Regions from separate parts of the Homo sapiens genome. Here region 2 is linked to region 1. Evidence: fine-mapped expression QTL. Tissue or cell type: aorta. Region 1 holds a variant in brackets; the other region holds the start of a gene. All regions are shown on one strand. Distances are between the middles of the regions. Region 1 holds the start of C1QTNF8 (C1q and TNF related 8). Region 2 holds the start of SSTR5 (somatostatin receptor 5).

Region 1 (5,355 bases):
CCTTTAGAAAGATCATCCACTCCTCTCGGGGGCTGAGTGAGCCCAGGCGTCCAGGAGCCCCCAGTCTGTACAGCAGGGAGCTGAAGGCTGGGAGAGAGGGGTGGAGTCGGGGGTCTTGCTGAGGCCCCCTCCCCCAGTGCCTGGCACCTCCACCCGCACCTCACTGGCACAAGCGCCCCGCAGCACGGAGAGGGGGCGGCCCTCCCGGGGCCCGCCTGGGACGCTGCTGGGTGTCTGTGGGGGGTGGGCCCCAGGGCACCCGGCAGCAGCCGCTCCCCCGTCGCCACGGCAATGCCGCGGTCATGCCTGGCCAGGGCTATTTCTGTCCAGGAGACATGCTGTCCTGCCCCACTGAGTCACCCCCCGCGCTCCCTGCCCACCCCACTCAGGCCTGGCCTGCAGCTTCTGTGCCACATAGTTCAGGCATCGGCCCTGCCAGCCGCCTGCCCAGACGGACTCTCCCCAGGACGGGTCATCCCGGGCCACCCGAACCCAAGGGACCCAAAGGCACCCTTCCCGGGCCGTTCACCCACCCCTCAGCCTCCCTCCACCCTGCTCTGTGCGTGGGGAGGCTCTGGGACCTGCCCTCAAGGGGGACTGTCAGGAACATGCCTCTCTTTTTAGGGGGCAGTTCTGCTGGCGTCGGGGGGCACTGAGGGGCACAGGGTTCCCTGTGTCTAGGCCTCAGGGACGCTCTGGATACTTCTGAGCTCCATGGGTGCCCATTTCACGGGCATGGGAGGCTGAGGCTCAGACCCAGGGCACAGCAGAGTGTGGGCGTCCGCCCGTCTTTCTCTGCAAGCCCCAGGAGCACACTGTCCCACTGGGACACATCTGCAGAGCTGTGTTCTCGCCGCCCAGGGCACAGCCACGCTGAGCCGGCTCGGTCGGATGCAGGTGCCATAGTCACAGGCGCTCAGGTCTTCACACCCCATCTGTGTCACCACAGCCAACAGGGTGAAGATGGCTGTCCCCAGAGGGGGCCGCTGGGCCTAGTGGGTGCCGCTGCCAAGGGTGAGCTGTCACCGCCCAGGGCCACCTGGAGGGGGGAGCCTGGAACCGGCTACAGCTGGTGCGGTCCCCACCACAGCCCTCCCCAGCCCGTTGCCCGCAGCCTGGCACACGAAGCTCCCACAGGGGGGACCCCTTGGTCTCCCCTCACCTCCTGTCCTCCTTTCCTCCTCGGTCTTTAGCATGGGGGTGCTGAGGGCCAGGCCAAGCTGAGGGGCTGCGGGGAGAGCGGGACCCCAGGTCGCACACAAATCTGCCGAGGGGACTGAGCCAGCTCGGGGCCCCTCCCCGCCCACAGCCTGCTTTCAGGCAAGGCCGCCACAATTCTCCTGCCACGTCCAGCACCTCCCACAACAGGGGCCGGCTTGTGGAGGAAGGACCTGTGGGGAATGGCCGCGTGTCCGTGTCCAGAGGCCCAGGGTCGGAGCGGGACAAGGCCAAGGTGCTGTGTGGGCTTGGCCTGGGGCCCACAGAGAATGGAGCCCCCGCCCGCTGAGGCCTGGGAGGCCTAGAAGTCATTCCCGCGAGTCGTCCGGCCCAGTCCTTATCCGCTGAGAGGCGGGGCTGGTGCGGGGCCTCCCCAGGGGTGTCATGAGGGAATGAAGAGACCCCACGGAGCCTGGGGAGGCTGCGCTCCTGGGCTCCATCCAGCCTGGCTTCCCCGCCAGCAGCATGAGGGCTGTGCGTCACCCGGTGGCTTGGTGGCCATGGGGGCCCCGTGCAGCATGGAGGCCCTGGTCTGGGCCCCGAACACGGGCCTCGGCCTACAGCCCCCCCGCCGGGCCCGCCCAGCCACAGCTTCCATCTGCCTGCTTCTCCTCAGGGCGCCGCACCCCAGGCGGGCAGCAGGCTTGGTTTCCCGATGGAGGAGAGCTGCGTGCCCACGGCACCATCCCCCAACCCAGCCGGCCAAGACGCCGGGCCCCAGCCCCGCTCATGGGCACGGGGCTGGCAGGAGGACCCTGGGGCCGCGAGGCAGGCTTCGCAGTGGACACAGGGGCCCTGCCAGGATCCTGTCCAGGGCTCGGCGGAGCTGGCCTCTCGGCCTGTTGCTCTTGGACAGCCCAGAGGAAGCCAC[G/A]GGCGCCCAGGCGGGCATGAAAGGGCTCTTTGACGGCTGGGTTGCTGGGACAGTAACACAGACGGCCGGCCAGGCAGGGAGCATCCCTGAGACGGTAACAGGAAGCACAGGGCCTGGGGCTGGTTGTGGGAGTCTTCACAGCCGCCCTGGGCAGGTCGGGCTCCCCCTGAACCCCAGCGGAGCATGATCCAGCCCTGATTGTCTGCCAGGCAGGGCCAGGGGCTGGGACGGCCGGGAACTCCGTGGGGGCTCCTGCAGGCCTCCGTGCATGCACACACCCACTCCTGCCAGGCTCCCTCTGCCGGAGGAGTCCAGGGGGGCTCTTGTGGTGTCCAGTGGGGCCAGGGGGTGAGTCAGGGTCTGCTGAGCTCATGGGGAGGCAGGCAGAGGGTGTCTCAACTGCCAGAGACATTCCACCCACCTGGAATGACCCACTGCAGGAGGAAGGACCTTGCCCTGTGCTACAATCCCAGAGGGCTTCCTGAAGGAGGCAGCCTAGATCTTTGTCCAGCAGAGCCCATCTTCAGGGAATATTGAGGATCCCGACCCGTGCACCTGCCCTAGCGGAAGACACTCCTGGCCAAGCCTCCAGATGTGGCTGTGAGGGGAGTGGGGTAGGCAAGGCCCACCTGGCAGGGGGGCCAGGCTTGTTGGGGCAGCTGCTGTTGGGAGGGGGCCTACCTTGCTCAGGGGGACCCAGGTTGGCTCTGGCTTCCCCTCGGCACCAAGGTGGGACCATCCTTCCCTAGTCTGGGGGAGGCAGAGGAGTGGCCTCCCGAGGCCCCTGCAGGCCCTGCCCTGGGGGCTCCGGACGAGAGGCTCTCTGGGCCTGGCTGAGACGGTGCCTCTGTGCACTGTGCAGGGCCCCCCACCCCAGGCCAGCCTTGGGGGGCCTTTCCCTGGAGCAGACCAGCCACCACGCCCCAGGGCTCTGCCCAGCCACAGTGGGTGGGGCCTTGGGCGGCTACCCGCTCCTGAGTTTAGAGGGCTGTCTCAGAGACCTCTGTGTCCCACAACGGCTTCCCCACCATCTGCCGGGTGTGGGGGCCCCAGCTTTGGGGACCAGGACTCCCCGACTCCAGGTGTGCAGGGTGCCTGGTGCGGCCCAGAGTGTAGCAGCCCCTGAGCCTCGGCCTTGGCCTCACCCACTGGGCCAGGACCGTCCGTGCCCAGGCAGAAGCTCCCGCCTCCACTGGCTGTATTCCCAACGGGGGCAGGGCCGGGCTGCCGTAGGGTCTGGGGGCTCCAGCTGGGGCACCTCCTTCTCAGTCCCTCCCCTCTTTCCTCTCCCCCAGCCCTGGCCAAGATGGCAGCCCCCGCCCTGCTGCTCCTAGCACTGCTGCTGCCCGTGGGGGCCTGGCCCGGGCTGCCCAGGAGGCCCTGTGTGCACTGCTGCCGCCCGGCCTGGCCCCCTGGACCCTATGCCCGGGTGAGTGACAGGGACCTGTGGAGGGGGGACCTGTGGAGGGGGCTGCCTCGAGTACGGCCCACTATAGACATCGAAATCCTCAAAGGTGAGGCCCGTGGGTGCTGCCTGCATGCTCCCCCACCAGGACCCAACAGCCCACAGGGAGTGGGGAGCACCTGGGGCTTGGGAGGAGGGGCGGGAGGGGCACGCTGAGCACCAGTGTCTGCCCTGGCAGCGCTCCCTGCACAGGGACCCCTGGGCTCCCCCCGCAAGCAGGAAGAAGCCTGGCTTGGGGAGGGACCCATGAACCAAAGTGGGGTGCTGAGGATCCTGGGGAAGGGGGCCAGGGTTCCTGAGATCCCCAAAGTAGCAGCCCCTTGGGAAGGGAGCCTGGGCAGCCCGCTTGCTCTGAGACCCCTTGACACGGCTGCGCTGTCCCGAAGGCTGTACTAAGGTTAGGCTTGGGTAGGACCTTCCCAGCCTTCTCATTCTTTAACACCCAACGCAGACCGTAGCTGGCCCTGACCACCCATGTCCCCACCCTCTCGGTGGGGACGGCCTTGCCACAGGCCTTGGTCTAGCCACACCTTTGGAGAACGGCTTCTCCCCATCTTACAGACGTGGACGCGGAGACTGGGAGAGGGGCCGTCACTTGCAAAGAGTGTGTCCTTACAGTGACCCTTGAGCCCCAGCCCCTGGCCTGGGTGCTGGAATGGGGGAGGCCTGCCCAGCCCGGCCCCGACCCGTGGCTTTCGTTTGTCCCCTGCAGGTGAGAAGGGTGAGGCCGGCGTCCGAGGTCGGGCCGGCAGGAGCGGGAAAGAGGGGCCGCCAGGCGCCCGGGGCCTGCAGGGCCGCAGAGGCCAGAAGGGGCAGGTGGGGCCGCCGGGCGCCGCGTGCCGACGTGCCTACGCCGCCTTCTCCGTGGGCCGGCGCGAGGGCCTGCACAGCTCCGACCACTTCCAGGCGGTGCCCTTCGACACGGAGCTGGTGAACCTGGACGGCGCCTTCGACCTGGCCGCGGGCCGCTTCCTCTGCACGGTGCCCGGCGTCTACTTCCTCAGCCTCAACGTGCACACCTGGAACTACAAGGAGACCTACCTGCACATCATGCTGAACCGGCGGCCCGCGGCCGTGCTCTACGCGCAGCCCAGCGAGCGCAGCGTCATGCAGGCCCAGAGCCTGATGCTGCTGCTGGCGGCGGGCGACGCCGTCTGGGTGCGCATGTTCCAGCGCGACCGGGACAACGCCATCTACGGCGAGCACGGAGACCTCTACATCACCTTCAGCGGCCACCTGGTCAAGCCGGCCGCCGAGCTGTAGCCGGGTGAGGGGCCCCGCGGCTGAGCACCGGGCGCGCGCGCGCGTGTGTGTGTGTGTCTGTGTGTGTGTGTGTGGGGGTGGGTGTGGGTGTGTGTGTGTGGGTGGGTGTGGGTGTGGTGGGGTGGGCGGGCAGCGGAGCTTCAGCGCCGACTGTGTGCAGTGATTTGTTGAGCGCTGACTGTGTGCAGGGATTGGTTGAGCGCCGACTGTGTGCAGTGATTTGTTGAGCGCCGACTGTGTGCAGGGATTGGTTGAGCGCCGACTGTGTGCTGTGATTGGTTGAGCGCCGACTGTGTGCTGTGATTGGTTGAGCGCCGACTGTGTGCAGGGATTGATTGAGCGCCGACTGTGTGCTGTGATTTGTTGAGCACCGACTGTGTGCAGGGATTGGTTGAGCGCCGACTGTGTGCTGTGATTGGTTGAGCGCCGACTGTGTGCAGTGATTGGTTGAGCGCCGACTGTGTGCAGGGATTGGTTGAGCGCCGACTGTGTGCAGGGATTGATTGAGCGCCGACTGTGTGCAGGGATTGGTTGAGCG
Region 2 (5,355 bases), 23 kb after region 1:
CTCGGCCACGAAGGGATCTGCTCAGCCTGACATGGCACTGGGAGAGACCCCGGCCCCTGACCACTCCCCACACGGGCTGCGTGGTCTGGGGTAAGTCACGGGCTTCTCTGAGCCCAGCTTCTGGGATAGGCAACTCCTGCAAACTGTAGGGTTGCTGAGCTGATGAAACTGAGTGAGCTTCTGTGTGCAGGGTGCTGCGTGCATCCACTCCCAGCAGCATCCATCCCTCCCATCTCCTGCCCCCACCCCACAACTCACCATCTGCAGGTGCCCGGTGTGCCAGGGTCAGCCCAGAAGCCACAGGGGACCCAGATGGCCCCAGTCTGCCCACAGCACCGCTCCCGGCCTCACCTCCCCACGACGGGGACCACAGCGGGGCTGGCATACACTGGGCGCTCAACGATTGCTCCCACAAGCTGCCCTAAGCAGCCCAGCATTTCCCCAGCATCCAGGAGGCCGCTGGGCTCCTCGGAGAAGGGGGCAGTCTTCACAGGGGCCTGGGACCAGAGGCGGGGCCTCAGCACCAAGTCCTCCATGACTGGGTGGAGGTCTAGCCTGCACCCTGCCAACTCCTTCCAGGCTAACCCAGCACGAGGTCGGGGAGTCGGCTCCTTCATGGGGGGCAGCGATGCGGCTGCAGCTTGGAGGGGCTGCGGAACCTGCTGCTCGGGGAGGCAGCGGCTCACACGGCCGGGGCCCACGCCGCACCCTGGAGAGGCTGCAGACCCACCCGGGCTCCTCCATTGTGTGCTGGGCAGGGGCAAACGTCGGGGGACACCCTAGCTAAGACTACAGGCCCCAGCCCCTCCAAAGGCCCCGGAGCCAGGCCTGTGCTCCCAGGACAAGCGTTCTGACCTGTTTCCTCTGTCGTAAGGGTGGCCTGGTGGCAGGCCACTGCCCCCTTGGGGTCCAGCTCTGTGAGTGCAGCCAATGGCACCCCTGCCTGTCCCCCACATACACGCCACCTGTCCCTGCGGCAGCCTGTGGCCAGGGGCACATACCCTCCCCAGGAGAGGGAAACTGAGGCAGGTGTGGGCCAGCCTGGAGCAGCAGCAGCAGGGGTCCCGCGTGCTCCGCGAACGCTTCTCGGGGCACCCTCCACACCAGGCACCTCCTGACAGCCTCGCTGGGTCTTGCTCTGGAAATCAACGCCAGGCGCCTGTCCTTGGTGCTGTTGACCAGTTTCTGCCCAGGAGGCTCTGGCAGTCCCCACCTACATAGTCCAGAATCACTGCCTTCAGAAAGGGCTCAGCCTCACTGGAACCATCCCCAACTTCTGTCACCATGCACTCCGCTCTCTTGCCCTTGAGGGGGCCCCAGGCAGGCTGGCAGGCTGGGGACAGCGGGTCGGGCACGTGGGTGGGTCTGGGGTGGGGGAGGAGGGCCAAGGGCACACACCCCAGTGGCGTGTTCTCTATTCTGGAGAGGGTGAAGACGCCAGGAGGATTCCAGGTACACGCGGTGCCTTGGACAGGAGGGGGCTCTGTTCGCAGCGGGCGGGGTGGCACCCCAGCCTCCCCAGTCTTGGGTTTCAGGGAACCCATCTGTGAGTGCCAGGTCACAGGGCCCCTGGGTGCTGGCCTCTGCCTGCTGCCTTCCAGGAGCTCACCGACCCAGCTGCGCGCAGGCACCAGTTGCCTCCCCCGGCACCCAAATTGCGGATCCTCCCCTCGCTGGGTGCCACGGGCACCCTGGGACCCTCCTTCCGTGGCCCAGTGGTTCCCTGTGGCCTGAGTGCCACTTCCGGCCCCCAGCCCCAGGCTCCGAGCCCTCCCCAGCCTTACCCACCCTCCTCCAGCTCCAGGAGCCAGCCCCGCTGTGGCCCCCGTCGTGGGGAGGAGAGGCCGGGAGCGGCGCGGTGGGCAGAGTGGGGCCATCTGGGTCCCCTGTGGCTTCTGGGCTGACCCTGGCACACGGGGTGCCTGCAGATGGTGAGTTGTGGGGTGGGGGCAGGAGATGGGAGGGATGGAGCTGCTGGGAGTGGATGGAACGGGAGGGGAGGGACCCCCGGCGGCGGCAGGAGAGCCCCGCGGGTGTGCGGAGGGCGCGTGGGGGACAGTGCGTGCAGCGGGCTGGGGGCGCACGGCGGGACCCCGGGCCGGGGCTGCGCACACAGGGTGAAACCCCCAGTGGGGATAACAGCCGAGGGCAGGGGGTGCCCGCGCGGGAGGGGGACAGGGGCGGGCGGCACTCACCTGGGCGGCGGCGCCCTCTGAACGGGGGAGCCCCGATGTCCGCGCGGCACTGGCTCCGGGCTCCCGGGCGCCGGCTGGGAGGGGGCGGGGCGGGGCGGGGGCGGGGCAGTGCCTGGTGGGGGCGGGGCAGGGCCGCTTCACCTGCTCGACTCCCGGGTCCCACGTCTGGCCTCCGGGAACCCTGGCGCACTCGCCCACAGCCCTGGTCCCACTGGCAGTGACCCCATGATCGCCTGCGCCCCCACCCTATTTTCTTGCTGTCCGCTCTGTGGTAGACCCCAGCTTGGGGTGGGGGTCCTGCCGCCAGCAGGAGTCCAGGGGGTCCCTCGTCGAGAGTCTGAAGAGGGTGGAGGGTCCTTGTTCAAGGGGAGAGGGTCAGGGGCTCTGCAGACGTCTCTGAGGGGTGGGCTGGGGTTGTGGAGATAAGTGGGTGTGTGGAGGCTGGTGGGGGCGGCAGGCAGCCCCAGCGAGGGGGGTCCGTGGTCGTGGGATTTCCAGGACACTCCACTCGGGTTTTATCCATGCCTTATTTGTGGATCCTACACATATTTAAGCATAGACTACCTGCTAAGTTGTTCTTTTTATTTCCCCTGAAATGAATCCATGGGTACACCTTAGTCCCTCACCTAAGGTGGGGTTCTCAGGCAGGCAGCAGAGTCACCTGGGTCCTCAAAGCAGATTCCTGGGCCTCGAGCTGGGCCCCCGACTCCCCAGGCAGTGAGGGCCTGGGAATCTGCATTCCTGAGAAGCTCCCGGGATGCTGATCCCCGGGCCCGCCGTGAGCGCCGCTGGTTGTAAGAAGCGGGACCGAGCGCCTCCTCCCGCTGAGCGCGGAGGCTGGGGATCACCGGACATTTTCCCACCAGGAGGTCCCCCAGCCCCCTCCCCTGACTCTGTGCCGACCCAGGGAGCCCCGCCACTGGCTGAATGAAGTGAGGCGCCCCCAGGTGACAGCAGAACTCGGAGGGCCCCTCTCTGAGGGGACATGGGAGCAGCCGCCTGCCGTCTGTTCACAGGTGGGGTCGGCTCCTGTTGAACAGGCGCCAGCAGCTCCCTTGAAGGCCGGGTACCGGGACCATGTTCTCTCCTTTAAGCGTTTCAGTGTTTCCACATGTTCTGCAAGCAGCGCGTGTTATGTTTACCATCGAGCAAGAGTGCTTAGAGGACCATGGCACCTGGCCCCAAGGTCCCCTCCCCTCCTCCCCAGCCTGCGGCCATGGCCAGGCCCTCAGGGGAGGCTGCAGGCTGGTCCCAGGTCCCCTGCCCAGAATCCGCCCCATAAGCCTTTCCATCCTCTCTGGAGGTACCTGGGCTGTATCCCTCCCACCCTCCCACAGCAGTGGCTTCCCAAGGCAGATCCTCTGAGAACCCCCTTTGTGACCCCTAACGCCTCCCCCATCTCCATCTGCTGCCCCTCCCCTCAGCCTCTGCCCACCATCCTCATGGTTCTCGCCTCAGCCCCTGGCTGTGTTCCTCCAGCTCCCACTGCCTCGCACCTGGGCCCCCATCTGTCATGTTCTGGGGCTCCCTGAGAAGCCTCTGGGGTCCCACTGTTCTGGAATCACTGGGTGCCCCAGGGGTGCAGGGTCCGGTGTGCGAGTCACGGCCCAGCGCCCAGTGGGAGCTCAGCCCTGCGGGTGGGTGGGCGCTGGATCTACTCACATCCCCAACATCAAGCTGGGACACCCCCCACCTCCAAGCACCTGGGCCCTCCTGGGGGCCTGATGGCCAGAGAGGGGACCTGTCGGCCCCACAGTGCCCCTCCCCACATCGGCCACCCTGAGTTCTGGGCAGGAGTCCCCTGGCCTCAGTCCCACCCACCCCAGGAGGATCAAATGAGGTCATGCCCGCCTGGGACGCTGCAGAGGTCAAACCCAGCACCGTGAGGATTAGGGGCTGCCAGTAGCCATGGCAACCGATGGTGGCTGGATGGACTCCGCAGGGACGGTCCTCAGACCCCTCTCCAGGGACCCCACCCTAACTGTGACCTGTCCCACGGCCCGTGACACCCCCTCTCCTGAGGCTGAGGACAGCAGCTCCCGGACACAAAGCCCGTGCCCCTCCCCCACCAGGCAGAGGCTTGGTCACTGGGCTGACTCCCCTGTAATTATTCAAAAGCAACAGGGGCTGACTCCAGCTCACCTGGAACACCCCAGAGGCCTCTCGTCTTAGTCCCCAGACTGGGCTGGGCCCTGGGGGTGGCGGCCAGGAGGAGTGTGGGGCACTCTGCCCTGCAGCCAACAGGGCCCTCCCTCCGCTCCTCCAAAGGGCCCCGCTGCCCACTGTCACCCTCTGAGCATCAGGCGTTTGCCCTGGCTGCCCCCCTGCCTGGTGCACCCCACCTCCCTTTCTGCAGGTAACTCCCCTGGCAGCTCAAGCAACGCTTCCTCCGGGAAGCCCGGGCCGCCCCACACTTGTTCCGTCGACCGCTGCCCCCAACAGCCTGCAGATGTTCACAGGAGGCCACGGGGCCTGGTGGGTCTCGACGTCGCCCCCGGGTCTGATCACAGCAGGATTCCAATAAACACGGGTCCACGTGCACCTCCCGGCCCTGGCTGGTGCAGCACAGCCCGCCAGACAGGAGGTCAGAGATCAGCCCCCCACCGGGGCAGCACAGCGGGTCACCAGCCTCCCGACAGGAGAAGAAAACACTGGCGCAGGCGCTGCCGGCATGTGTTGCTGGGACTGGGCTGGGAGGGTGTCCTGGTGTCTGAGAGCCTCAGGGAGCTACCGCAGAGCGTCCCCAAGAGCACAGGGTGCCCTGACATCCTGCGGATTCCAGCCTGGGGACCCGGCAGCAGGGGCTTCCCACCAAGGCGTCTGGAGTGAGATGCAGGCTGCAGCTGCCAAGGGCAGAGCGTGGCCCGGGGTCCAGACAGAAACAGGGAGACCCTCAAAGGGTTTCAAGGATGGGGCCTTCTGCAGGGGCCTGAGTCCCGCCCCTGGGGCCCTGGCTGACCCTCCTGGCCGTGGTCTCGAGCTTCAGTGGGCACTCTGTTAAAATGGGGTGCTCATTAAAATGCAGCTTCCCAGGCTACTCCAGCCTTCAGGATGGGAGGCGGGGGCAGTGCTGAGGCCCTCACCCACACAACCCGCTGGGGTGCCCACTCTGTCCCCTGGCACCTGGACCAGTGCCCAGTGTGGAGTGACGTCCCATGAG

Evidence for each region.
Region 2: it holds the start of SSTR5, and the variant in region 1 is fine-mapped to the expression of SSTR5 in aorta (GTEx, PIP above 0.99).

The regions. Positions count from the first base shown.
Region 1 is chr16:1,092,963-1,098,317 of GRCh38, reverse strand. It overlaps C1QTNF8 (C1q and TNF related 8), which reads left to right and starts at 2,074. Exons shown (of 5, transcript NM_207419.3): 1 at 2,074-2,162; 2 at 2,530-2,703; 3 at 3,385-3,603; 4 at 4,267-4,821. The coding sequence starts at 3,396. The coding sequence ends at 4,817. The variant G/A (reference allele first, on the strand shown) is at 2,090.
Region 2 is chr16:1,069,663-1,075,017 of GRCh38, reverse strand. It overlaps SSTR5 (somatostatin receptor 5), which reads right to left and starts at 2,271. Exons shown (of 2, transcript NM_001172560.3): 1 at 2,196-2,271. All of the region lies in intron 2 of SSTR5-AS1 (SSTR5 antisense RNA 1), which reads left to right. RefSeq lists enhancers at 2,770-3,511, 4,480-5,236.